Regions from separate parts of the Homo sapiens genome. Here region 1 is linked to region 2. Evidence: fine-mapped expression QTL. A gene starts in region 2. The other region holds a variant in brackets. All regions are shown on one strand. Distances are from middle to middle. Region 1 has its middle 21 kb from the start of MGST3. Region 2 holds the start of MGST3 (microsomal glutathione S-transferase 3).

Region 1 (2,913 bases), 21 kb before region 2:
CAAAGTGCTGAGATTACAGGCATGAGCCACTATGCCCAGCCAGAAGAGATCTTGACAGAAGAGATTTTAACAATGACAACACAAGCAAATTTCAACGTTTATAATATGGCCTAGTAATTTGTTTTTCAAATTTAATTTAAAGTGATCATTGTAAAATATGCCTCTTATATCATGACTCAGTATACATGTTTGTAGTCTAGCTCAGGATTTTCCAAACTATGGGTCTAAAATAAATTTGGTGGGTTGTTATCAGCATTAAAAAATATCAAATAGGCAGCTTAGGAGGCTGAGGTGGACAGATCGCTTTGAGTTCAGGAGTTCAAGACCAGCCTGGGCAACATAGCAAAACCCCATCTCTACAAAAAATATAAAAATTATCCAGGCCTAGTGGTTTATGCCTATACTCCTAGCTACTCGAGAGGCTGAGGCTGGAAGATTGGTTGAGCCCAGGAAGGAGAGGTTGTAGTGAGAGGTTGCACGCCTGCCTGTGTGACAGAGTGAGATCCTGTTTCAAAAAATAAAATCAAATACGATGAATAAGTACTGGAGACTCAATGAATAGCGTAGTGACTATAGTTAATAACAATGTATTGCATACTTGAACTGTGCTAGGTGAGTATATCTCAAGTGTCCTCACCACAAAAAAGAAATGGTAACTGTGTGAGGAGAGGGATATGTTAATCGGCTTGATTGTGGGAGTCATTTCACAATACATACATACATACAACATCACATCATACAGCCTAAATATATGCAATTTTAAATTGTCAATCCGACCCTTCCAGTTCATAAAGCTGAAAAAAAATCAAGTCAGAAAGAACTGAAGAGAAAATTGAGAGCCAGGCAGGCATTGTGGCCCAAGCCAGCACTTCAGGACGCTGAGTTGGGAGGATCGCTTGAGCCCAGGAGTTTGAGACCACCCTGGGCAACATAATGAGACCTCCTCTCTATAAAAAAGTAAATAAAACAAAATTAGCTGGGTGTGGTGGTGCACACCTGTAGTCCCACCTACTCAGGAGGCTGAGGTGGGAGGATCACCTGAGTCCAAGGAGGTCGAGTCTGCAGTGAGCCAAGAATGCACCACTGCACTCCAGTCTGGGCAACAGAGCAAGACCCTGTCTCAAAAAATAAAAAATAATCACGCCTGTAGTTCCAGCTACTAGGGAGGCTGAGGTGGGAGGATTGCTTGAGCCCAAGAGGTCAAGGCTGCAGTGAGCCGTGTTTGCACCATTGCACTCCAACCTGGACAAGATTGAGATCCTGTCTCAAAAAATAAAAATAAACATAAAAATATAAAAATATGGCCAGGTTTATGCCTGTAATCCCAGCACTTTGGGAGGCCGAGAGAGGCAGATCCCTGGCACCCAGAAGTTTGAGACCCCATATCAAAATTAGCAAGGCGTGATGGTGCCTTTCTGTAGTCCCAGCTATTTGGGAAGCTGAGGTGGGAGGATTCCTTGATCCTGGGAGGTCGAGGTTACAGTGAACCAAGATCACACCACTGCATTCCAGCCTGGGTGATGGCATGAGACCCTGTCTCAAAAAAAAAAAAAAAGAAAAG[G/GAA]AAAAAAAATATATATATATATATATAATAACAGTAAAAAATAAAGAAAATTGAGTCCATCTCATGTGATTAAAGAAAGTATTATTTTTTGGAAAAATGGAAGTATTATTATTTTAAGTAATTATTATTTAAAGGAAGTATTATTTCCAATGTATATATGAATGTGTGAGTTTTTATGAATGTATATACTGGCTTGCAACGTGAAATCAATTTCTTACTGTGATACAATGCCCGCCCTCCATTTGGAAAACATAGCCCTCACTGATTTCACGAATTGAGCTTCATTAGTCTTGATTACATATATGACTGCGAAGTTGGGACCTGGAGCAAGAAACAGCCTGGATTGCCTTCAGAGCAGGGTGGACCTGCCACACTGCAGACCGCTCTTCTTGAAACACAGCCAGTTGTACCTTTCCCAGCTTGTCTACATTGCAACCTCTGGTGTAAAAAATGTTAGTTATGAAAACTAGATACTGTCGCTGGGTGAGAAGAGTTTCAAATTTTAAAGTCTGTTCTTAGAAGGGGCGTCCCGTGGACCTTCAATATACACGTGAAAATAGTGTGAGCTCCTTTCATCTAGCTGGCTTTTCACCTCAGGACGTGTTTGTACCGGAAGATGCGTGTTTTCCTCGGGAGTCCTGCAAGGCACCCAGACTCTTTTTTAATTCAGCTCTCCCTTGGTGCTGTCGTTCTGAAGTCCTCAAACTGACATGTCAGAAAATGTTTTTGGTAATTCTTGGCTATATTTTTAAATTTATATTTATGGGAGGTAATAGAGGCTTAGAATTCAAGACATACAAAAGTGGGAAGCTTCCTCTTTCACTCCTGTCTTTGCACCACTCAGTTTCCTCTCCAGAGACAATAAACATTACTAGTTTTTTGTTTGGTTGGTTTTTGTTTTGTTTTGTTCAGATGACAAATTCTAAGTGCCAACCACCACCGTAATTTGAAGCAGAGCCTGGAAACAAGGTTCCTGAAAACTGGTTTTGCAACCTTTGCACTTTCACCACCTGAAGGATGAAAATTTTAGAGAGAGAGTTGGAGATGCATAGATTAGGAGGGAGCTGCTAGAGTGCTTGGAGTCCCACTGCACTCTAAAAGCATCTTTATAGAACATTTAATACTTGTATTGCCCTTATTTGTTTTGTGTATGTGGTTTTCTTGGTTTGCTTGTTTTTTGTTTTTGAGACAGGGTCTTGCTCTGTTGCCCAGGCTAGAGTGCAGTGGTCCAATCTTGGCTCATTGCATCCTCGACCTTCTGGGCTCAGATGATTCTCCTGCCTCAGCCTCCCTCCCGGGTAACTGGGACTATGCCCGTCACACCACCCAACTAATTTTTTTTATTTTTTATT
Region 2 (2,913 bases):
CAAAAAAAGGGTTTACATTTTATGAAGTGAACAGAGCAGACCACAAAACAGAATATACAGTATGATTCTATTGTGTGTGTATGTAATTTTTTTGTGGGCTTTTCTGTATCTCCGAAAATTCTAATATAAAGGAATACTGCTTTTGTAATAAGATTTTTAAAAGAAGGTCCTCAGTGGTTAAGTACTTGTCTGTGGTCAGAGATAACTGGCAAAGAAGAGGCCAAATTTTTTTTGAGACTGCAGTCTCCGGTGTAAAATGAGGGTGCAAGGTGCATCCCCGCTCCTGATTTTTGAATCATCCCTTCCACCACCTTGGAATGACTTCTTACGTAGAACAGCCAGCAAGTGGAGAAACTTGCCTCAATAATGCAAAACTGTCTCCCTAACTTACTTCCTTTCAATGTTCAAGCAAAACAAAGCCCTCTCTACATCCAACATGACAGAAACCCAACATGACAGAAAGTATGAGAATGGTTGGAAATTGCTGAAACAGCAACAGTAAAGATTTAATGAGCTCTCAAAGTACCTCTAGATGTGCAAATATGACAACCCAATAAAAAGAAACACACACATAACCTAGAGCCTTCAAAAATCTAGATTTCTGCCTTTCCACACCTTAACTTGGAATCATTCAGGTGGGTTCCTAAGCATTCTCTCGGAGGTGAGGAATCCTCCAAAGAGGAGACTCTAGGAGGGGCCCAGGTGTGGCAATCTTCAAAAGGATGAGGGATGTCCAGAGGAGAGGTGGCGGGAGGGTGCACTTAAAACACGCGAAAATTGGAAACGTGCCTTCTGCAGTCAGTTCCTTCGGATTTTCCGGCATTTAGAAGCCAGTTCTACTCCTTCAGCCCGACCGTATCTGCAGGTCTCACCCAAGACCAAGACCCCCGCCCCCACCCCTCCTCCACCCGGCCTCGAGCCCCGCCCCGGACGCTGGACCCGAGCGTAACGGGAGCAGGTGTTCACATCAAAGGTCTGGGTCGCGAAGGCAGAGACTCCATGTGCCGCAAAAAAAACTCCACGGACAATTGGGAGACTCCTTTCAAAAAAACAAAACTCCGGAGCCACGCGACTCCGCGCTCAGGGGGCGTGGGTACGGCCCACCACGAGGGCAGGGCTCGGCGCCAGCTCTCGGCAAAACTAACAATATTTGTTAGGCCCTAAACAAAAAGGCCCTAACAGCGATAAATCCATTCACTTCGGGAGTGTAGCAACCTGGGACACCAAGCGCCGCCCACGCCCCAGCTACGCGCCTCAGGGACACATCGATTGAGGCGCGGCTACTTTCGCGCACGCGCCTTGCATGCCCGTGCTTCGCCCTTACAGCAGAGCGCCTAAAACCGCTACGGTGGCTCTGCTGGGGACAAATTATTCACGTCCCACTGTTCTGCAAACCCAATCCGGGAGGTATGACCTGGCTGGGACAGTTTAGGAAGATGGCCACGAAGGCACCTGGGGGAGTAGATATATGTTTTTGAGAATGAGAGGAGTAAATCGCTGGACGACCATGAGCAGGAAGAAAATTAGGCCTCCACCTCCCAACCAGTGGCCCTGAGTTGGCAACTTAGACAGCGCGCGCCAGCGCCAGGAGCCCCGCCTTGGGGGCGTGGCCGCGCGCTGGTCGGCTGGGGCGGGGCCTGCTTCTGGCCTCATCTAGCCCCGCCCCAGGCGAGGGCGCCGCACCCACACCGCGCTGCGCAGTTTTGTTCTGCTCCAGCTGTTCGAAGGTGATCCAGGTGAGTGCTAGCACCTGCGGGCAGCCACGAGCACCGGGCCGCCGGGGGCACTTCAGCCTTTGCGCAGGGCACTCCCATATTTCAGCCTATGCGAGCTGAATAGAGACCCGCTGTCTCTAACCTCCCCCCACCCTTATCAGTAAATTAGCGATCTGAATTTCCACCCTCTCTGCTCTCCCCTTGCCTTGCATCTTTTCCCTGGTGGAGTGGGTTGGGAGCGTCTAAGCGAGGCCCGACCTATTTATGTGTAACTCAGGAAAATTCTCAAGGTCAACCCTTCCTCCATTCCTTCCTTTCCTCTCCTGCTGTCCCCGGGCTCTGCAGTCTGGGGGCACCTTTCTGCCTTCCGGAGACCACCCGACCTTGCCCTCTGCTGTTCCGGCGCAGAGGATGGCGAGCCGGACACTGCCGGGGGAGTGGTTGTGCAGGCCTGATCAGTAACACTGGTTTCAGAAGTGGCCTGTGAGCAATGCACCCGCTGCGGTGGGGATGTGTTGCTAGGGACGGTCGGGAGAGCCTCTGAAGGAATTGTGTTTGTTTTCCTCCTGCCTCTTAGAATCGTTTGTCCATTTGTACTGGGAAGGTGGTCATTTCCTACCGCTGACTTAGAGCAAGAGACGCCTCTAGGCGGGTGGGGGACTCTTCAGGTTCTTCCTTGGATTTCAGAAAATGCCCCTTCTTTATGTGGGGTGGCAGCACGGAGCCGTAGGGCTACAGTAGTGGGGCAGTTGCAGGGCGGTGGAAGGCGCTGGAGACTCCTTAGTGAGTCATTCCCCGAAGTTGTGGCTTCTGCTGATACTTTCCTTGAGAGTCACGAGTTTACAAGCTACATAATAGCGTCGGGGGCAAGTAAGTGTGGAAGACGAGGTAAAGGAAAAGCAGATACTAGGATGGGTAGAAGGAGAGGCAGGGGTTAGAACTTTAATTCCTTCCCTGGGGACAGGAGATGCCCTGGAGGGGAAGGCGCTTCCGGCTCTGCAGGTATGTGCTGTTGGGCCTAGGTGTGGTCCTGCGGAATTGCTGCAGATTTTAGATTGCTGGTGGGTAGGAGCTGCAGCGCTTCTCTTGGGAAATCTGTAGATCACCTGGAGCCAGCAGTTCTGGGAGGCACCCCAGGTTATTGGTCAGAGTTACAGGCTATATTTTATTTCAGTGAATTCAGAGAGCACATTGAGTC

What was found.
Region 1: its variant is fine-mapped to the expression of MGST3 in activated naive CD4 T cells (Schmiedel 2018, PIP 0.95). The same link has a PIP of 0.9 or more in Th1 cells and regulatory T cells.

The regions. Positions count from the first base shown.
Region 1 is chr1:165,608,526-165,611,438 of GRCh38, forward strand. No RefSeq gene overlaps it. Among named protein-coding and RNA genes, the nearest start is that of MGST3, 21 kb to the right of the region's middle. The variant G/GAA (reference allele first, on the strand shown) is at 1,562.
Region 2 is chr1:165,629,558-165,632,470 of GRCh38, forward strand. MGST3 (microsomal glutathione S-transferase 3) reads left to right here and starts at 1,677. Exons shown (of 6, transcript NM_004528.4): 1 at 1,677-1,736. RefSeq lists enhancers at 598-1,128, 2,182-2,351 and a silencer at 1,512-1,751.